Regions from separate parts of the Homo sapiens genome. Here region 2 is linked to region 1. Evidence: fine-mapped expression QTL. A gene starts in region 1. The other region holds a variant in brackets. All regions are shown on one strand. Distances are from middle to middle. Region 1 holds the start of ZNF226 (zinc finger protein 226). Region 2 holds the start of ZNF284 (zinc finger protein 284).

Evidence for each region.
Region 2: its variant is fine-mapped to the expression of ZNF226 in whole blood (INTERVAL, PIP above 0.99).

What each region holds. Positions count from the first base shown.
Region 1 is chr19:44,159,151-44,170,698 of GRCh38, forward strand. It overlaps ZNF226 (zinc finger protein 226), which reads left to right and starts at 5,950. Exons shown (of 6, transcript NM_001032373.2): 1 at 5,950-5,992; 2 at 6,607-6,657; 3 at 10,885-10,945. The coding sequence starts at 10,931. ZNF234 (zinc finger protein 234) reads left to right here. Exons shown (of 6, transcript NM_006630.3): 6 at 1-1,163. RefSeq lists enhancers at 5,642-5,791, 5,852-5,971.
Region 2 is chr19:44,068,257-44,079,804 of GRCh38, forward strand. ZNF284 (zinc finger protein 284) reads left to right here and starts at 3,903. Exons shown (of 5, transcript NM_001037813.4): 1 at 3,903-4,035; 2 at 8,066-8,148. The coding sequence starts at 8,134. The variant A/AT (reference allele first, on the strand shown) is at 5,289.

The DNA of each region.
Region 1 (11,548 bases):
TTATAAAACATAAGTTGAAGTACCTTTATTTTTAATTTTATTTTTGAGACAGGACCTCGCTCTGTCACCGAGGCTGGAGTGCAGTGGCATAATCATGGCTCACTGCAGCCTCGTCCTCCCAGGCTCCATCCATCTGCCCATCTCTCCCTCTGAGTAGCTGGGACCACGGGCACGTGCCACCACACCCAGCTAATTTTTGTATGTTTGGTAGAGAAAGGGTTTCACCACATTGCCCAGGCTGGTCTTGAACACCTGAGCTCAAGCAATCCAACCTCCTTGGCCTCCCAGTGTTAAATTACAGGCGTAAGCCACCACACCCGGCCAAGTTGAAGTATATTTTGTGATTTTTCTGACAGTGCAGACTGAAAAAAATTTAATTAACCTGACAAGAGTTTACTGAATATCACACAATTGAGTTTTTAATCCATTAATGTTAAGGCAGGGGTTTACTCTAACACTTTTAAAGTGTCAGAAGTAGTTGCCAATGCCAAATTTTTATCAGCCCCCTTGAATTTATTTGATTTCTGACTTTCCACATTTCCATCCAGACTTTGACATGATTGCCGTCTAATAACTGTAGCATTCTCTTATTAAAACTTCTGGCTGGGTGTGGTGGCTCATGCCTGTAACCCCAGCACTTTAGGAGGCCAAGGCAGGTGAATCACCTGAGGTCAGGACTTAGAGACCAGCCTGACCAACATGGTGAAACCCCATCTCTACTAAATACAAAAATTAGCTGGGCATGGTGGCAGGCGCCTGTAATCCCAGCTACTCAGGAGGCTGAGGCAGGAGGATTGCTTGAACCCGGGAGGCGGAAGTTGCAGTGAGCCGAGACTGCGCCATTGCACTCCAGCTTGGGTGACAGAGCAAGACTCCGTCTCAAAAAAAAAAAAAAAAACTTCTGAGGTAGGGGCTGTACCATATTTTTGCCCCACACCCATTAAGCGAATACCAAAAACAACTTGTGGAAATTTGATAATTTTATCAAATTTATTATTTGGGCAGGATTGGCATTTACCATGCTTTTCCCTATTGCTGGCAGTAAAACATGGGTTTAAGGAAGAGTGTTTTTCAGAATTTACACTGTATATCTCTGATTTGGAAGTTATATAATTGGAATTTATGATTATGAGATTAAAATACCAAAAAGACTAAGTAACATATCAGTGATGTCAATGAATTGTTTTAAATGGAAGTGTGTGTTCCTCTATAATAATTTGACTTTTGATATTTTCATTCCTGTATTGACCTGAAGCTATTAAAATGGCGGCAGGTATCTGTAATGACAGGATAAAGAAAAAATATGGGCTTTGGAAGATCATAGACTATTGCCTTTGTAGCATAATGAAATCTATACATTTTTATGAGTGAGTGTGTATGTACATGCATAAGATAATATGTAAAGGATACTTTTTTTTTTTTAGCAATTTTCTCTTGCAATGAGCATTTTGTGGTATTTTTCCATTTTATAATTCCATAAATTACATTTTAATTTCTTATTGAACATCAGTATTACCAAAGCAGTAAATTATGTACATTAGAATTTTAAAAAGTGCTATATGATAATCCCTTCAAAATATGATTGTTCTATATTGTTATATGGCACATAAGATCATAATTAATAGATTCTGGAAGCCAATTTTAAAAACAAAAAAATTCTCTGAATATGTGGATAAATGGATGAGTGTGAACAATTGTATCTTTGCAATTAATGTCTGCTACACTTCTTTTTTTTTTTTGAGATGGAGTCTTTCTCTGTTGCCCAGGCTGGAGTGCAGTGGTGCAATCTTGAATCACTGCAACCTCCGCCTCGCGAATTCAAATGATTATCCTGCCTCAGCCTCCTGAGTAGCTGGGATTACAGGGGCGTGCCACTATGTCCAACTCAGTTTTTTTTTTTTTTTTTTCCCCGAGACGGAATCTCACTCTGTTGCCAGGCTGGAGTGCAGTGGCGCAATCTCAGCTCACTGCAACCTCTGCCTCCCAAGTTCAAGCAATTCTCCTGCCTCAGCCTGCTGAGTAGCTGGGACTACAGGTGTGCACCACCACGCCCAGCTAATTTTTGTATTTTCAGTAGAGACGGGGTTTCACCATGTTGGCCAGGATGGTCTCGATCTCTTGACCTTGTGATCCGCCCTCGGCCTCCCAAAGTGCTGGGATTACAGGTGTGAACCACCGTGCCTGGCCTAAATTTTGTATTTTTAGTACAGACGAGGTTTCACCATGTTGGCCAGGCTGGTCTCGAGCTCCTGACCTCAAGTGATCTGCCCGCCTCGGCCTCTCAAAGTGCTGGGATTACAGGCATGATCCACTGTGCCCGGCCTTGCTTGCTACATTTTTTAAAGCATTAATCTGTAACACAGAGAGAATCCTGGAAATGAAAACAAAGTGGTATACATATGTTAGGGAGGTATGTTTAAAAAGGTTCACTGAGGAAAAAGTGTGCATAAGAGCAGAATATAGTGCAATCCACTTACTGGATGTGGAACCAGTAAGGACAAAGAGTGGGTTTGAATGACATTCCATATTCCTTGGACATGATGGTGATATTTTCAGTGTAGTTGATTAAAGCATGGGTCCCTAACCCCTAGGCCACAGACCCTGTTAGGAACAGGGCCAGACAGCAAGAGGTGAGCAGTGGGCAAGTGAGCAAAGCTGAGTTCTGCCTTCTGTCAGATCAGTGGCATGAACCCTATTGTGAACTACGCATGTGAAGGATCTAGGTTGCAGCCAGGCGCAGTGGCTCATGCCTTTAATCTCAGCACTTTGGGAGGCTGAGGTGGGCGGATCACCTGAGGTCACGAGTTGGAAACCAGCCTGGCCAATATAGTGAAACCCCATCTGTACTAAAAATACAAAAATTAGCCAGGCATGGTGGCAGGTGCCTGTAATCCCAGCTACTTGGGAGACTGAGGCAGGAGAATCACTTGAACGCAGGAGATAGAAGTTGCAGTGAGCCGAGGTTGCGCCATTGCACTCCAGCCTGGGCAACAAGAGCGAAACTCTTTTTTTTTTTTTAAAGAAAGGATCTAAGTTGCTCGCTCCTTGTGAAAATAAAATGATAAATGTAATGTGCTTGAATCATCCCCAAACCATCCCCATCCCCCCACCTCACCTTGTGGAAAAATATTGTCTTCTGCAAAGCTGGTCCCCTGTGCCAAAAAGGTTGTGAACTGCTGGATTAAAGGGCTTTACTCAATAAATTATATCTAACTGGGGAGACTTTTTTCCACTATTGATTTTCTTCAGTATACCTTCACTGGATGCTTGCTACTCATTAAGGTCCATGCTACCTCAATGTGCATGGTATGCTGGGGATTGATAATACCACCTTCACATTCTTGTAATTCACTAGGAGGACTCAAGACACCCTATGTTATCATAGTCACTATGATTTATTGTAGTAAAAGATACCAAGTCAGTTGAGCAAAGGGAAAATGTGCATGGGATGAAGTCCAGAAGAAATCAGGTACAGGCTTCCAATAATCCACTCCCTGTAGAATCATTCATGATGTACTGTTTTTTCAGCATTGAAACATGTGAAATGTCTACCCAGTAAGCTCAATGGAGACTTAGTGCCCTAGGCACTACGTTGTGTTTTGTTTTGGAACTGGTCACATAGGCCAGCTTGGGCCAAAATTCTAGATTCCCAGAAGGAATTCAGCATAAATCACATTATACAAATAGCCGGGGCATGGTGAGCCACTCTCATCAGAGAATTGTGGAAATCCTCCTGAAATTCAAGTTCCCAGATACCAGTCAAGGGCTAACCTTATATCTTGCGCTGCTATAACAGAATACCACAGATTAGGTAATTTATAAACAATATAAATTTATCTGTCATAGTGCTTGAGGCTGGGAAGTCCAAGGTCAAGATGCTGGCAGGTTTAACATCTGGTGAGGGCTGCTGCTGTCTGCTTCCAATATGGCATCCAGTTGCTGCATCCTCTGGAGGAGACAGATGCTATGTCCTCATATGGTGGAAGTGATGAAAAAGCAAGAAGGGATTAAGTTTTAACAAGGGAACACCATCAAACTATAGCATGTTGCAAGCAGGCCTTTTAAGTACAACAGTCTCAGGCCTATGTTAACTCTTTTCTGAACAAAGGGCTTCAGAAATCCAGTACCTATATTCTTTTCTTTCTTTTTCTTTCTTTGTATCACCAGATACCACATTAGGTCATCTTCCTTCAAGGTAATTTGTAACCAAAACCAGTAGACTAAACCAAATAATTTCTTGCCCCTCTGCCCCATAACTGATAAGACTGTAGGTACAGTCTACATCTACCCTCCTCATGACCAGAGTTTTCAGGTTAGTCACAAGACAGCTGTAGAAGCTGGGAGCTATCTGGCTTTGTTTTTGGTTGGTTGTTGTTTGTTCACAGTCAAGAGGAGAGAACTGTTTCATTTGTAATATTGTATAGTTCATGTCTCCCAAAATGCATGGCTACTCTAACTCCCATTCACACACAAGATTAATTCCTTAGCTCTTACCTAGTATGCCCAGCCCTTGTGGGATCATTCAGTTTTTTCATCTGTGGGCCTAACTTGCCTGTTCATCTTTGGCCGTTGGGATTTCCCTGTCTTAGCTTTGAGTTTAGCTACATTTTAACGCTTTAGGGGATATTGTCACATAACATTTTTCTATCTTTGAAAAGATCCACAATATTATGTAATGATTACCACTATCTAATCCTAGAACTCTTTCATCTGCTCCCAAAAGAAATCCCCTACATGAGCTGGGTGTGGTGGTGCATGCCTGTAGTCTCAACTACCCAGGGGGCTGAGGCGGGAGGATCACTTGAGCCCAAGAATTTAAGGCTGCAGTGTGCTATGATCATGCCTGTGAATAGCCACTGTACTCCATTCTGGGAAACATAACAAGACGCTGTCTCTAAAAAAGTAAGAAAAAAAAAACCCTACATATTGACAGTCACTCCCCATTCCCAACTACATCTCCCCAGCCTTGGAGACAACTAATTTACTTTCTGTCTCTATGGACTTGCCTATTCTGCACATTTGATATAAATGGAATCATACCATATATGGTATCTTGTGTCTGGCTTCTTTCATTGGACATAATGTCTTCAGAGTTCATCTATGTTATAACATGAATCAATATTTTGTTCATTCACATTACTAAATAATATTGCATTATATGGCTAGACCACATTTTGTTTATCCACTCATCAGCTGATGGACATTGGGTCTTCTCCACTTTTTGACTATTATGACTAATGCTGCTATGAACTTTTTTAGAACAAGTTTTTGTGTGGATATCTTTCAGTTCTCCTGGGTATTTACTTAGGAGTGAAATTGCTGGCACATAAGCCCCAGATCGGGTGCCAGCAGATTCAGTGTCTGGTGAGGTCCCGCTTTCTAAGTCATACATGGTCCTTCTGGCTGTGTCCTCACATAACTAAAGAGGCAAAGGAGCTCCCTCAGGCCACTTATAAGAGAGCATTAATCCTATTCATGAGGGCATTGCCCTCTTGATCTGATCACGTCCCATAGGTTCCACCTCCTAATATCTTCTTGGGAGTTAGGATTTAAACATACGAATTTGGTGGGGGCCATAAACACTCAGACCATAATAATACCTAAAGAGAAGTGAGGGATTCTGGGAAATGAAAACCAGGAGCTCAAGGTAGTTGGACACTTCCACATCAGAAGGCTTGGACATTCCGGAAGTGTAGTCCAGGAGGGCGGTACTGTTCTGTTTTTCCCCCAACTCCAGCATTCTGTGATATGTAGTCCGGAGTTCCGTGTAGTCGCGCATAGCTCAGCTGCAGTAAGGCTGTAAATGTTTCCCCTGCGGAATCCTGGGAACTGTAGGTCCAATCGTTCTAGGTAGTTGTAGGCACTTCCGGCTCGAGGAAGGCAGTGCTGTGGAATTCTGGGAAGCGTAGTCCAGGTCCTCCTGATACTCGCAGGCACTTCCGCCCAGGAAGACGACGTAGCAGCCATCTTTTCCCTGGCTTTGGTGATTCAGGTCAGCTTCTCAGGAACCTTTCAAACTTCCCCGAAATGCACTTGTGGTCAGCAGCTAGCGGTCTTTTGTTTGGGGAAAAAAAGGAGTAGCGGCTAAGAGCGGAGGTTTGAGGGGCCAGGATGCTGTTTTGCGTTTCCCTGGGCGGAGCTTGTTAGAATTGGGGGCGTACTGGCTTCGGGCGGCTGGGGTGATGCTTCGTCGGGTTTGAAGGTCTCTCGGGCTGTTCGCTCCCTCATTGTGACTCCCCCACCTAATGAGCCAGCCCTACCACTTCATACAGTATCACATTGAGCGAGTTAGTTAATCCCCGTGCCTTCGTTTGCTGTTCTGAAGGAAAATAAAAGCAAAAACTTCCTAATAGAATGTTTTGAGAGAAAACGAGGTAATACAAAAAGTGTAAAACTGCCTGGCACGTGAATTACCAATACTACTGTAATTTTCCTAGAAACTCCCGTTCTGTGGCGAAATTCTGTGAGTCCATGAAGCTGGATTGTCCCTGACCTCTTTTGAGGAAGGAGAGGGTTGCTTCTAACTGGTCCTGGGAGATGCCACTGTGATGTATCCGGGATGAAGACACAATCCTGGTTACTTCATAGCCTGTTTTTCTTCCCCAGCCCTGACTTCTCAAAAAGCACTGCACAGAGGAGGAGGCAGCAGAACCCCATGTGAGTAAGACTTGTTGTTATTCTTGTTTTATTCACATAAATCAGAGAATGTGTGGGGTCATGTATTTGGGCATGAGAAGTGATTATAATTTAGCGTTAGTTGCTAAGTTCCATTCTAAGGGGTTTATACAAATGAACACCTTTCCACTATACAGTGGCTCTGTGAAGTGATACTCTTTTTCCGAGGAGACTGAGACATAAGAACATAACTTGTTTGCTCATAGCCACCTAGCTAGTAGGAGGCAGAGCTAGCATTGAAACCGAGGCAGTCTGAGTCTAGACCTGAGTCTTCTTTGGTATGTTCTGCATGAGCCATAGGCAGCTGGCTAGTATCATGTGAAAATAGGTTGGGACTTCACTGTGGGGACTTTGCTCAAGGTCTGGGCTATTCTATGACTTTTAAAAAATAGTGGCTGGGCACAGTGGCTGACGCCTGTAATCCCAGCACTTTGGGAGTCTGAGGCGGGCAGATCACTTGAGGCCAGGAGTTTGAGACCAGTCTGGCCAACATGGCGAAACCCCATCTCTACTAAAAATACAAAAATTAGCCAGGCGTGGTGGCCAACACCTGTAATCCCAGGAGTTTGGGAAGCTGGGGCAGGAGAATCGCTTGAACCCAGGAGGCGAGGCTGCAGTAAGCTGAGATCACACCGGTGCACTCCAGCCTCGGCAACTGAGCAAGACTCTGTCTCAAAAAAAGAAAAGAGTTTTTAAAAATAGTTTTCTCAATTATTAGTTTTATTTGTTTCAAATAATATAGAGGTAACACATAATCATGGAAAACACAGAAATACATTTAAAAAATGTAAATTCCCCATGACCTTAGGGTATAAAGATAACAACTATAGTTTAGTGCCTTTCTGTCAAGTTTTTCTTGTATATATTTCTGTTTATTAGGGGCTGTTTTGGGAGAGGGACTGAGTACAGTGCAACACTACTCAAACTGTGGTTCACAAAGCAGCAACATTGGCATCACCCAGGTAGAAAGGCTCATTCTTGAGCCCTACCGAAGGCCTTCTGATTTAGCATTTTTGCAGATAGGACCCAGAAATCTGCATTTCAACAAGATCCCAAGGTGAGCGAGATGCATGTTAAAGTTTGAGAAGCTCAGGAAAAGGTCTTATCTGGAAACTCAGGACTAGAAAACTGACCCTGCCAGATGTCACAGATAAAACTGAGCTGGCCATACTAGAACCCTACTCAGTCCAGTGATTTTTCTTTCCCACTAAATATTAACTGTCAAGTTTCTTTGCAAAAACCATGACATGAGTAGAAGGCAGCTGTCAAGTCTAGAGTCAAAATGGAGAAACTCAGAGTCCTGAAGATCTATTTCTCCCAGGCTTTGGGGAGTAGATTCCTTCCCATCTTTTGTACTGGAGGCCTTCTGCCTGAAGTGGGAAGATCAGCTACCTATTTATTGTTAATTAACGTTAGATATTATTGCCATAGTTGTCATCATCTCGTCATCGTTATTATTCTGATTAATGACTTTCCTAATTTCTTTAACTTTTTTTTTTTTTTTTTTTTTGAGGCAGAGTTTCACTTTTGTTGCCCAGGCTGGAGTGCAATGGCGTGATCTCGGCTCACTGCAACCTCCGCCTCCCAGGTTCAAAAGATTCTCCTGCCTCAACCTCCCAAACATCTGAGATTACAGGCACCCGCCACCACACCGGCTAATTTTTTTGTATTTTTAGTAGCGATGGGGTTCCACCATGTTTGCCAGGCTGGTCTCGAACTCCTGACCTCAGGTGATCCACCCACCTCGGCCTCCCAAAGTGTTGGGATTATGGGCATGAGCCACCGTGCCCAGCCAACTTTTTTTAAAAATATAATTTCAAACTTGTAGAAAAGCTGCAAAAATGATAACGTAAGGAAATCTCATATACTCTACACCCAGATTCACCAGTTGTTACGTTTGTTTGTTATGTTATGTTTTCCCTGTGTGCTCTGTTGATGACCATCAGCCATCACCAGGAACATACCTGTAACCAACAACAATTGTTTGTTTTAGCTTGCTGCATCCAAGGAGCCCACACATGCATGGGGTGTCTTGGTAAGAGGCAATTAGGAGGACCCTGGTTATAGGGTTTTGGTTTATGTTAGATGAGTTGGGGAGAGTTTTAGGCAATGGGTTTGTTCTGGATTGGATGCTGTGAAGAAGCAGTAGTAATTTGATCAGACTATTGTAATTTTTATGTTGGAGGTGGGGAAATAACAAGACTGGAGTTGTCACTGATAACAAAGTGGTCATGTTAGATGGAAGAGGCAATTATTTGGCTATTTTTATCAATGTAGGATGTATTTCTCTCTGTGTTACAAGCTGTTTTGTTTTTTTCTTTTTCACCATGATCACTGAGTAGACCTGTCTCATTCTTGTTGATAAATTGGAAACACCAGGTTCTGGTTGTTGCTGCTGTTGTCAAAGTAGTTTTTTGTTTTGTTTTTTTTTTTGTCTTTTTGCTTTCACAACTTTGTCATACTTATATTTTGTTTTTGTCTTTTTGCTGAAGTATTTGAGAGCAAGCTAGAGATAGTGATGAAAATGAAATTAGTTACATTGATAACTTACTGTTATCTAACCCACAGTTTGTATTTAAACTTACTCCATTTTCCCATTAAAGACTTTGAAAGTAATTTCTTCCCCCAGATGAGTTTCCAGTCTAATTGTATGCATTGCACTTAGTTTTGGTTTCATTAGTCACCTTTAGTCTAGAATGATTCCTCAGACTTTATTTCTTTTTTGCTCTCGATATCTTTCTAGAGTATTGAGAAATTATTTGTAAAATGTTCTTATTTTTTTGTTTCCTTAATATTTATTCATGATTAAATTCAAGCTATGCATTGTCAGCAGAGATGCCATAAAAGTAGGGAGGCATCCTTCTCAGTGCATCATAGGAGTCAAATGTTGGTTTGTGGGTTTGTCCCACTAGTGGTCTCAACTTTGTTTTTTTGGATAAAATGTCTGCCAGGTTACCTTTTTCCTTTTGCACTTAATACTTTGAGACTATGTAGCCATCTTATTCCTCACCAAACTCACCAGTTTTTAGCAGCTATTGATGATGTTCTAGTTATCTTTCATTCTACCTTTATTAGTTTATGTGTTCTACTATAGGAGCTTTCTTTTGTCACCCATTTATTTATTACACATTCTTTTGTTTATAACAATATAGACTCAGGTTCCTCCCTTTTCCTTTTTTTTTTTTTTTTTTTTTTTTTTTTGAGACAGAGTCTCACTCAGTCGCCGAGGCTGGAGTGCAGTGGGGCAATCTCAGCTGACTGCAACCTCCGCCTCCTGGGTTCAAACAATTCTTGTGCCTCAGCTTCCCAAGTAGCTGGGATTACAGGTGCCTGCCACCATGTCCAGCTAATTTTTGTCTTTTAGTAAAGACAGGGTTTCATCTTGTTGGCCAGGCTTGTCTTCAACTCCTGACTGTAAGTGATCTGCTTGTCTTGGTTTCCCAAAGTGCTAGTAGGATTACAGGCATGAGCCACTGTGCCTGGCCAGGTTCCTGCATTTTTAATTTAAGTTAGGTATGGATTGTCAAACGGTGTTTTTTAATTGCGGTATCTTCGGTTTTATTAGTTCAGTGTTGGCAAATTATTGGAAAGACGACAAGATGTTTTTCAGAAGTTATAAGACACTTTCACGTGACATAGCAACAACCTGTGAACTCCAACTATCTTATAATATTCTGTTGGTGGAAATTATATTTTTAAGGATAATTTCAAACCATAGACCATCTTCTACTTATTGCAGTTGCAAATAAATAAGATACCTGACTGTGTTGTAAGAGCTTTCTACCTTCCAGCAATCCGATGAGGTTGGTACTGTTATTCTTTACCACTTGCAGATGACAGAAGTAAGGCAAAGAGATGTTAATAGTTTCCCCAAGGTGACGCTTTTAGTGTCAGGATTTTAACCCATGCATATCAATTCCAGGCCTACTGTACTTATATTGTCTCAATTTACGCTGTACTCAAAATAAGAATTACTGGCGTGCAATTACAGGCACATGGGCAGTGAGGCCACTGTGTGGTTAGCCTGGTTCTGAACTACTGCTGAAAGGGGTAGTTGGATATCTGGGATCCATGTCATAATCTGCTTAAAAGCCACATAAAGCTGCAGCCACCCCAAGAAGCACACACCTTTGCTAATTCCTAAAGAGCAGCCACGTGCATTAGCAACATACTTACCCAGTTTTGATTTATTTCTCTCTTCTTTCCTAGTTCAGCTTCTTAGGACTCTGCACTTCCCCAGAAGGAAGAATTAAAAATGAATATGTTCAAGGTGAGTAGAGCTTGCCTTTCCCAGCTGTTAAAAATACCATTTTAGTACTCAGAGATGGAACCAGGTTTTTCTTTTTCAAGTAAGAGTCAAGGCATCTGATGACCTGTTGAGTGTGCTAGGTGCTTATTTTGTTCCGTTTGAGTTTAGCTGGTTTTGGTTTTAGTTTTATTTCGTCATTTTTATTTTACAAATAAAGGTAGAAAAATTAATAGAAATGATGGGTGGGCACAGTGGCTCACACCTGTAATCCCAGCACTTTGGGAGGCCGAGGCAGGGGGTGGGATCACTTGAGGTCAGGAGTTTGAGACCAGCCTGGCCAACATGGTGAAACCCCATCTTTACTAAAAATACAAAAATTAGGCCGGGCATGGTGGCTCACGCCTGTAATCCCAGCACTTTGGGAGGCTGAGGCGGGTGGATCACAAGGTCAGGAGATCGAGACCATCCTGGCTAACATGGAAACCCCATCTCTACTAAAAATACAAAAAATGAGCCAGGCGTGGTTGCAGGCACCTGTAGTCCCAGCTATTCGGGAGGCTGAGGCAGGAGAATGGCCTGAACCTGGGAGGCGGAGCTTGCAGTGAGCAGAGATCGTACCACTGC
Region 2 (11,548 bases), 91 kb before region 1:
CCAGGAGGCAGATATATATACAAATGGAATAGAAGTGAGAGTCCATAAAGAAACCCATACATCTAAGGCCACTTGATTTTCAAGAAGGATCCAAGATTACTTTATGGAGACAGAATAGTCTCTTCGACCAATACTGCTGGGACACCTATACACAGACACACAACATAATGAAGTTAGATTGTACCTCACCCTACACTTAAAAGTTAACTCAAAATTCATCAGTGACCTAATGTAACAGCTAAACTATAAAAGTATTAGAAGAAAACATAGAAGTAAATCTTCCTGACTTTATTTGGAATGGATTCTTCAATGAAACAACATAAGCAAAAGCAAATATAAATACCTAAATGGGACCTAGGTTTTAAAAAATGCTGTGCATACATGGACATTGTCATGAACATGAAAAGACCATACAGCATGAGTTCTACTATCCAGATTATATAAAGAATTCTTACAACTCAATAACAGAAACCACTCAATTAAAAAAATGGGCAAAGGGCTGGGTGCAGTGTCATGCCTGTAATTCCAGCACTTTGGGAGGCTGAGGTGGGCAGTTTACTTGAGGCCAGGAGTTCAAGACCAGCCTGGCCAACATGGTGAAAGTCTGTCTTTACTAAAAATACAACTAGCTGGATGTGGTGGCCTCCTGGGCTCAAACCATCCTTCCACCTCAGCCTCTTGAGCAGCTGAGACTACAGGCGTGCACCACAGCCTCTGGTTAAGTTTTGTATTTTTTTATAGAGATGAGGTTCCTCCATGTTGCCCAGGCTGGTCTCGAACTACTGCACTCAAGTAATCTGCCCACCTCAGCCTCCCAAAGTGCTGGGATTACAGGCATGAGCCACTGCACTCAGCCTAAAAAAAAAAAATCCTAATTTTTATGGGTACACATATGGAGTATATATGTTGATACAGGCATACAATGCATAATAATCATATCAGGGTAAATGGGGTATCTGTTACCACAAGCATTTATCAGATTTTTGTGTGTGTTAGAAACAATCCGTACTCGTTTAGTTATTTCAAATGTACAATAAATTATTATTGACTGTAACTCTGTTGTGCTATCAAATACCAGATCTTATTCATTCTATCTAAGCATAGTTTTGTACCCACTAACCATCCCCACTTCCCTCACCACCAACCTTAACTTTCCCTCCCTCTGGTAACCAACATTCTGCTCTCTGTCTCCATGCATTCAATTGTTTTAATTTTTAGCTCCTACAAATAAGTGAGAAGATGTGAAGTTTGTCTTTCTGTGCCTGACTTATTTCACTGAATGTAATGTCCTTCCAATTCCATCCATATTGTTGCAAATAACAAAATCTCATTCTTTTTGTGGCTGAATAGTACTCCATTGTGTATATGTCCATTTCCTGTATCCATTCACCTGTTGATGCATACTTAGGTTGCTTCCAAATTTTGGTTATTGTGAATAGTGCTGCAATAAACATTGCAGGGGAGGGTGCAGATATCACTTTGATATAGTTTTAATTTTTTGAGGAACCTCCATACTGTTCTCCGCAGTGGTTCTACTAATTTACATTCCCACCAACAATGTGCGAGGATTCCCTCCTTCACTCCTTCCACATCCTCACCAACATTTGATATTGCCTGTCTTTTGAATAAAAGCTATTTTAACTGGAGTGGGATATCTCATGGTAGTTTTGATTTGTATTTATCTGATGATCTATGATGTAGAGCACCTTTTCATATACCTGTTTGCCATTTGTATGCCCTCTTTTGAGAAATGTCTATTCAGATATTTTGCTCATTTTAAAATTGATTTATTAAATTTTTTCCTATTTGGTTTGAGCTTCTTATATTCTGGTTATTAATCCCTTGTCAGATGGATAGTTTGCAAATATTTTCTCCTATTGTGTGGGTTGTCTCTTCACTTTGTTGATTGCTTCCTTTGCTGTGCAGAAGCTTCTTAACTTGACGTGATCCCATTTGTCCATTTTTGCTTTGGTTGTCTATGCTTTTGGGGTATTACTCAAGAAATCTTTGCCCAGACCAATGTCCTGGAACATTTCCCCAATGTTTTCTTGTAGTAGTTTCATAGTTCGAGGTTTTAGATTTAAGTCTTTAATCCATTTCGATTTTATTTTTGTATATGGTGAACAACAGGGTTGAAGTTTCATTCTTCTATATGTGGATATCATGTTTTTCTAGCACCATTTATTGAAGAGACTGTCCTTTTCCCAATATATATACTTAGCACCTTTGTTGAAAATGAGCTCACTGTAGGTGTAGAAATTTATTTCTGGATTTTCTAGTTTACGCAGCACTAAAAAGAATGTACTGTACATGAAGTGATTTCTAGGATATGTTGTTACATGACCATAGAAGAGTTAGAAACGTGCTTTCTTTTAAGTAATAATGGAAAATAAGAAATCTACACATACTGATACGGTTTGGCTGTGTCTCCACCCAAATCTCATCTTGAATTATAGCTCCCATAATTCCCACATATCATGAAAGGGACCTAGTAGGAGGTAATTGAATCATGGGAGTGGGTCTTTCCCATGCTGTTCTCGTGATAGCAAGGACAGATAGAGGAGTGACTTTGAATAGAATGGGAGGCAGGTTTGCCCTAAGCGATTTCCAGCTTGAGATTTCCTTAGTGATTTTGGGGGCCCAAGATATTTTCCTTTCACAATACTAAGCAGTTTAATTTCTCTTAAATGTGGCATTTCCACGTCTAAAGAATATTAATATGAAAACTTTAAAAGTGGGAAGATAGCTTTTCCAGGAGGGCAATTGGCCCTCCATATTGGCCCTTGACAGGGCAGGAGCATCGCCATCTTGGACAAACACTGCCATTTTAAAGTTCGCGTTGATCAAAAACTGCCTAAATCCAAAGGGCATCAGCCTAATGGCTAAGGTCAGCATGACCATAAACCACAAATGACATCTCCAATCAGAAACATTCCAACCATAAGATAAACCCCTCCCTGACCAGAGACATGCCAGCACCGAGATAACCTCCCTTCCATTGGAGAGATGTCAGTCCCAAGATAACTTCCCCTCCAACCAGAGATATTCCAACCCCACAACAGACTTCTCCCCAATACAGAAACATTCTAAGCCTGTGGTAAGCTCTCTCTCCCTAAAGCCAATACATACTCTTAGTCCGTAAGAGAGAGCGCTCCTGACTGCAATCGGCCAGAAGGCCCTCTCGGTTTATTCTCCAAAACGAACCTGTCTTTGACTGTTGAGCCGCTTTTCGTGTTTTTTTTTTTTTTCTCTTTAACTCTTACAGCCCTCTTAAACACTTAAACTGTGGTTGTTTTTCTTGCCAAACCAGTGGTACAACAGTGTCTGGTTGTACCAGGGGCTGGTGCCCCACTCAATGCCTCTCCCAAACCATTTTTCCTGGCCCATTATTTAAGCTCTTAGATTTAGCCTCATACTATTAGCGTCTAGTATATTAGCCTTTCAGCCATCTCCTGACCGCTCCACAGTCACTCCCCGCTAACTCCTTGAAGATTGTATCTCCTTGCTTTGTTCTCTTTCAGTAACACTCCTGTCATCATGGGAGGCGTGTAGACTTCAGGAATTCCTGTCTATTCAATATTTTCTCTCGAGGACGCAGGGAGAGGGAAGGACCACTCTCAGGGCCACAGTCCATATTCCAAACCAGGCGCTTGGGTCTATGGGATTCATTCCTCGTGGGCATTGCAGGAAGTGTAGTCAAAGAGCACCGCGGAGTCCCACGCTTCCCGCCGGAAGGTGATACTATAGAACGTCTCCTTTGAGATTCAAGGAAGTGTAGCGCAGGAGATCTGTTGAATGACGAGCAAGTAGGCTCAGGACGGCGTATCCGGGGAATTCTGGGAAATGTAGTTCACACGCTGCGCGGGGTAGGGGCACTTCCGCTCCCGGGGGGCGAGGTTGCTGCAGTGCATTCGGTGGTAGTTTGGTGTCAGTCCTGTGTCTTGTCGGTCCTTCTAAACGTGTCCCCTTACGATGCTGGCTCGCAACCACCTGGAAGTTGACTAAGGGGAGAAGGAGTCTCGTTGGAAAACGGAGGTTTGGAGGGACAACGGCCTCTCTTTTCGTTCTTGTCAGCGGAGCCTTCTTGGTCTTGGGGCTGTCCTCGCGTCCCCGGGCATGAGGCTGGGGGTTGGGACTTGGTCGGGACGCGTCTCGCCTGGTTTGAGGGTTTTTGGGGCTCTCAGCTCGCTCAGTCCGCCTCCCTCCATCCCACCTGTGAGGCTACTTTCTCACAATTTAGGGTTGGGATGTTATTAATCTCCCTGTACCTCCCACTGCTGTTCTTTAAAATGGGGACTTTAGGACCATCCTAATGAAATCGTTTTGGGAACTGGAAGAGGTAACACAAATGAAAGCCTTAAAGCAGCCCCTCCCTTAGTGACTGGTGGTCTCTTCTTAGTGTTTATTTCCCACGAAGCCTGTCAGGTCCCCGGGTGGGGTCAGAGCTCCATCTGCAGGGATCCCCGCCCTTGTCTCTGATTCCTGCAGGACGCTGGGTGATCCCGGACGCTTCTGACCTCTTTTTAGGAAGGCGAGGGTTGTTTCCATTTCCACGAAGGGAGAGGAACATTTAACTTTTATGCCGGACGGCAATGCGGTCAGGGTGTTTCACAGCTTTCTCCTTCCCCAGCCTGATTCTCAAAAAGAGCTGCAGGGAGGGACTTCTTGGCTACTGAGGGCAAAGTTCCACGAGAGTGGTCCTTGGCTTTTTTTCTTTTACAGAGATGCTCACCCCGACCAAGAGTGTAGGATGTGTCCTCAGGCATGGGTGTTGATAATAATTAAGCCTCAATTGGTAACTTTATCCCAAGAGCTTTATACAAGTAGTCACATTTTCGCCACACCGTGGCTCTGTGGAGAGGTACTACTTTTTTCAGTTTTAAAGATGAGTGAGATACAAAGGAGCAGGAGTTATCTGAGAATAGTCACCTAAGCAGTAAGAGGTGGAGCTGCGGTTGAAACCTGGGCGTTACAGGTCAGAGCCTTAGTTGATAATCTTTTGGATACATTCTCATTGAGGCAGAGGAACTAGCTGGAATCTAGTGGGGAAAGCAAGCTAGGACTTGATTGAAGGGAGCCTTGAGAGCAAGGCTTATGGGCTTGGACTGTTCTGGGAGTTTATCAACTATTTCATTCATTAGAACTATTTCATTTATTACAAATATTTCACTTGTTATGCAGCGGTATGATTGTGGAGCGTTCAGAAATTGGAGAAATACGAGTAGTACAAGTTTATAATTACCCATGAATCCAGCATGTAAAGATAGTAACTGTTAAACTTCGAGTGC[A/AT]TTTTTTTTTTTTTTTTGAGACAGAGTCTCACTGTGTTGCCCAGGCTGGAGTGCAGTGGCACGATCTCGGCTCACTGCTAACTCCGCCTCCCAGGTTCACGCCATTCTCCTGCCTCAGCCTCCTGTGTGAGTAGCTGGGACCACAGGCGCCCGCCACCACGCCCGGCTAATTTTTTTGTAGTTTTAGTAGAGATGAGGTTTCACCGTGTTAGCCAGGATGGTCTTGATCTCCTGACCTCATGATCCACCAGCCTCGGCCTCCCAAAGTGCTGGGATTACAGGCGTGAGCCACCGCACCCGGTGCATTTCTTTTTGGTCTTTCTTTGGCATATTTGCATATTTATTTATAAACATTTAAACAAAATTTTATGATTAAAAAAATGTGTTTTCCCTTATGTGTTTAACTATGGAAATTTGGAAACACTGCCAAGAGGGAAATAGCTAGTGAACTTACATGTTATATCATGCTCATCCTAATTTATCTCATCGTTATCTCATTTTTTTTTTGGTAAATGTTTCCTGATATTGGCCGGGCATGGTGGCTCACGCCTGTAATCCCAGCACTTTGGGAGGCCGAGGTGGGCGGATCACCTGAGGTCGGGAGTTTGAGACCAGCCTGACCATCATGGAGAAACTCCATCTCTACTAAAAATACAAAATTAGCCAGACATGGTGACGCATGCCTGTAATCCCAGCTACTCGGGAGGCTGAGGCAGGAGAATCGCTTGAACCCGGGAGGCGGAGGTTGCAGTGAGCCAAGATTGCACCATTATACTCCAGCCTGGGCAACAAGAGCGAAACTGCATCCTCTGCCTCCCGGTCTCAAAAAAAAAAAATATTTAACGTTTTATTTTCATATCATTTGAAACCTATAGAAAAATTGCAAAAATAGTGTTAGAAATTCTCATATACTCTTTACCCAAATTTGCCAAATGTTTACATTTTTCCTGTTTGCTTTGTTCTTGCTGATCACCCAGATACCACCAGGAACATACCTGTAGCCAGAGACAGTTGCTTGTAGCTTTCTGCAGCAAAGAAGCCCACATTTCAAGATAATTGTGGGGTGTCTTGGTAAGAGGTGTTTAGAAAGGGCTGGTTATAGGGTTTCACATAACATGCTAGATACTATTAGATATTATACTGGCTAGGCATGGTGGCTTATGTCTGTAATTGTAGCACTTTGGGAGGCCGAGGCAGGTGGATCACTTGAGGCCAGGAGTTCAAGACCAGCCTGGCCAACATGGAGAAACCCCATCTCTACTAAAAATACAAAAATTAGCTGATTTGTCCACTGTGAAGTTACTTTTTTAAAATTTGAGGGGGCGTGCGCCTGTAATCCCAGCTATTAGGGAGGCTGACGCATAAGAATCATTTGAACCTGGGAGGCAGAGGCTGCAGTGAGCTGAGATGGCGCCCCTGCACTCTGATCTGGATGACAGAGTGAGACTCTGTCTCAAAAAAATAATTAAATATTATATTAAATAATATTGTTATCTATTACATATCACATCTGTTAAAAAGCTAATAATAGTAGTTGTAGTGTCATTTATTAGATAGTGTTGGATACCATATTACATAACGTTGTTATCTAATCTGCAGCTTCCATATTTAAATTTATTCAGTTTCTTCTTTTGGTCCTTATAACTATCCCTTGCCCCACTTTTTACCTGTAACCCCATTCAAAGTCCAATTTTATGCATTGTCTTTATTGTCACATTTCTATACTTTTGTTTAATCTAGAAGGATTCCACAGCCTTTGTCTTTTATATGCATGGTTTTTTGAAGAGTATAGGCAAGTTGTTTTGCAGAAAGACATTCATTTGGGGTTTGTCTGGTAAATTTCATGTTTACGTTTAGAGTATGCATGATTGGCAGGGATACCATAGTAGTGGTGAGATGTCCTTTTCATTGCAACCTAACAGTGTCCAAATGATGTTGGTTTGTCCCTTCACTGGTGATCTCAACTTTGTTCACTTGGCCAAGATGAAGTCTTTCAGATTTGTCCACTGTGAAGTTACTTTTTTTAAATTTTGAAAATAATAAAGTTCCTTATGGGGAGATACATGATTAGTGGACATTCTACTGTAAAGAAGAGTTTCCATTTCTCCCCCATTTATTCATTCCTTCATTCAACTATAAATATTCTATTGATATGGACTCAGAATTCAGTCTTACTGATTTCAATGACATGTAGATTAACAATTATTTTTTCCAATTCTATCAAGATGTATTTCACATATAGCTTTCACCCATTTCAGGCATGGAACTCCGTGATTTTTAGGAATTTTGTGAAGTGGAATAACCATGATCATGATTCAGTTTAGATCATTTTTATCTCCCAGTTGGACTCCTTGTGCCCATTTATAGTTAAACCTCATTCTCATCTCAAATGTGAAGCAACCACTAATCTACTTTCTCTATGATACATTTGCCTATTCTGAACATTTCATATAAATGCGATCACACAGTCCATGGGTTTTTGTGACTGCCTTCTTTCATTTAACATAATGTTTCCAGGGTTCATGCATGTTGTAGCATGAGTCAATATTTCATTTCTTTAAATTTCCAAGTAAGATTTCATTGTATGGATAGGCGACAATTTGTCCATTTACCCATAGGAAGGCATTTTGGTTGTGTGCAATTTTGGGTTATTATGAATAATGCCCCTGTGAACATTCAAGTGCTAATTCACAACACATGTTCATACTGTTGGGTGGCATCACTGACCACCCCTTCATGTCTCTTTTTTTTTTTTTGCCTTCCATGGCATGTTTCAGGCACAATTCTGTCTTCTCTTGAACTGCATAACTGAGAACTCTGCAAATTCCCCAAAGAAGGAGGAAAAATGACCATGTTCAAGGTGAGTAAGTCTGGTCTCTTTTGCTGTTCAGATTCTGTTTTGCTACTTAAGATTGTCACATGTTTTTCTCGGTCTTGGGAAGACTCAAGGAGAACAACAGTTATTTGTGCACCTGTTGTGTGCCAGATGCTTCCTTGTTTCTTTTGTGTTGAATTTGCGTTTGGATTTGATTTTGTTTACTTTTACCATTATTTATGTTATGAGTAGAAATTTAGTGGGAAGGAACAATTCTCCCATTTCACTACATCTTTTCTCACTAATTAGGCATTTTTATTTTCTCATGCTATTCCTCATGTATATTCATAACTGTATTTGTATTGATACTTATCTAATTTAAATTGTGTTCTTTGTGTTTAATATTATGTAATATTCATTATTTATGGTTGCATCATGTTCCCATTGAATTGATGCTCCTTTTTTTTTTTTTTTCCTCGAGACAGAGCCTTGCTCTGTTGCCCAGACTGGAGTGTGGTGGCGCAATCTCGGCTCACTGCAACCTCCGCCTCCCGGGTTCAAGCGATTCTCCTGCCCCAGCCTCTCAAGTAGCTGGGATTACAGGCGCTCACCACCACACTTGGCTAATATATGTATTTTTAGTAGAGACGGGGTTTCACCATGTTGGCCAGGCTGGTCTTGAACTCCCGGCCTCAAGTGGTCTGCCTGCCTCAGCCTCCCAAAGTGCTGGGATTACAGGTGTGCACCACTGCACCTGCCGATGTTTCTTTTTAACTACTTTATACTCACAGGCACTAGGAGCTCAGTTTTGAAAGAGTACTTTTGACATGTGCCACGTTGGTTGTTTTGTAGATAAAATATCCATATGTGGCATGGCACAGCAGGCTGTAACTGTGGCTTCACACAAGGATTTCTGGAGATTTTCACATAGGAAGAGCTAGCTTTTGTTTTCCCCATGCTTAAGTCATGCATTGTGTGTATGTTATTTACTGGTCTTTTCTTATTCCTTTATGTATTAAGGAGTTTGACCAAAATGCAGCATCCTGGGCTGCACATATATCGGTTTCGGTGAATCTTGCCAGTTGCTCCAGCAACATTTAGCAATTCAGTCTCAACTTTGTTTGATAATGCCCAGGGTTCTCGTACTTGAACCCTGGATGTAATCATTTTTCTGTCTTTTTTTTTTTTTTTTTTTTTTTTAGTTTTTTAGTTTTGGTAGCTTTAGTTTCAAATGTCCATGATATCAGAAGATTCTCTAGTCACTGTGTTCTATTCCTTTGTTTGTTCCTCAGAACAGCTGAATGATGCAGTTCTCAGCCTCATCTTCCTCTTAAATATGTGAAATATGAGAAACCTGCTGAGGTTCAGAGAGGAAACCTAGGGTCGGCATGTTAGCTATTTTGCTAAATTGAAAGAGAGAGAGAAGAAGAAAGAGGATTCTCCATTGAAGGACCTATGCCTTCTGGTATGGGTGTCTGGAGTGCCCTCTTGAGTGATGACAACCACTGGTGACATAGCTCCTCCCTGACCCCTCCTCGGGGGTCCTCTTCTCTTCCTGTTGTGCCACCTCCTCAGGTGCACCTAGTACTCCAGGCACCAAAGGACAGTGATTGCTACACTCACTATAGAAAATCTTTAAATTCCTAATGGCAAAGATGGCTTATAGAGTGTTACCAGGGAATATAACAGCCTAAGGTGAAAATATTTACCACTTTGATATCTAAAAAAGACATAATCCAAAATAAGAATCTTATGTACAGAATGGAGAAAAAAATTCAAAGGAATATGAATAAAGGACATTAATACATTAATTGGTAAATTTTAGAGAAGAAATAGAAGTGGCCAATACATATTTGAAAAGGTGATAGTATTATTTATATTCAAATACATGGGATTAATAAGGTGAATTCTCTCTAATGAGATTATCAAAATCACAGGAAATTTGATAATCTGCTTTTGGCTATTTTAAGAAAAACCAGGGTAATATATCCCCTTGAAAGATTTTGGAGTTTGAGAAAAAATTGAGATCTGACATATATGATCACAATTTTAAACATTCTTATTTTTTGACACTTTAATTTTCATTTGAAATTATTGTATTATAGTTTATTCTTATTCTTTAGAGACAGAGTTTTGCTCTGTTGCCTCGGATAGAGTACAGTGATGTAAGTGTAGCCCACTGCAGCCTTGAACCCCTGGGGTCCAGATCTTCCTGCCCCAGCCTCCCAAGTAGCTAGGACTACGGGCACGCACCACGATGCCTGGCTAGTTTTAAAAATTTATAAAGTTGGTGTCTTGCTGTGTTGCCTGGTCTGGTCTTGAACTCTTGAATTCAAGCAATCCCCCCACCTTAGCCTCTTAAAGCACTGGGATTACAGGTGTGAATCACTGCACCTGGTTTGAAATTATTAAATTAAACTAAATTATTATTTTATTTTATTTCTTTTTTGAAATAGAGTCTTGCTGTGTTGCCCAGGCTGGAGTGCAGTGGCGCAATCTTGGCTCACTACAACCTCCGCCTCCTGGGTTCAAACGATTCTTCTGTATCAGCCTCCCAAGTGTCTGGGATTATAGTCACGTGCCACCATGCTCGGCTAATTTTTGTATATTTTGTAGAGACGGAGTTTTGCTATGTTGCCAAGGCTGGTCTCGAACTCCAGAGGTCAAATGATTTGCTTGTCTCGGCCTCCAAAAGTGCTGGGATTACAGGCATGAGCCACCATACCTGGCCAAAATTATTTTCAATGATCAGACGGGAGAGTAAGGTCCACATACATGATTTTCTTTGCAGGATTGGTATTAATGAAAACTACATAAAATTAAATATTCATTATTTAGAATAAAGATAGATCATCAGTTCCCTGTAATAGTATGCAGACATGAAATGAAATAGATAACTATAATGAAAGTTATAATAAAAAATCCAAAGAAATACGAATAAAGGACATTACCAGCCAGGTGCGGTGGCTCACGCCCATATTCCCAGCACTTTGCGGGGCTGAGGTGGGCAGATCACCTGAGGTCGGGAGTTTGAGACCAGCCTGACCAACATGGAGAAACCCCATCTCCACCGGGTGTGGTGGCTCATGCCTGTAATCCCAGCACTTTGGGAGGCCAAGGCAGGCGGATCACGAGGTGAGGAGATCGAGACCATCCTGGCTAACATGATGCAACCCTGTCTCTACTAAAAATACAAAACATTAGCCGGGTGTGGTGGTGGGCGCCTGTAGTCCCAGCTACTCGGGAGGCTGAGGCAGGAGAATGGTGTGAACCCAGGAGGCGGAGCTTGCGTTAGCTGAGATTGCACCACTGCACTCCAGCCTGGGGACAGAGTGAGACTCCATCTCAAAAAAAACAAAACAAAACAAAACAAAAAACAGCAAAAAAAGAGAAACCCCATCTCTACTAAAAATACAAAACTAGCTGGGCATGGTGGCGCATGCTT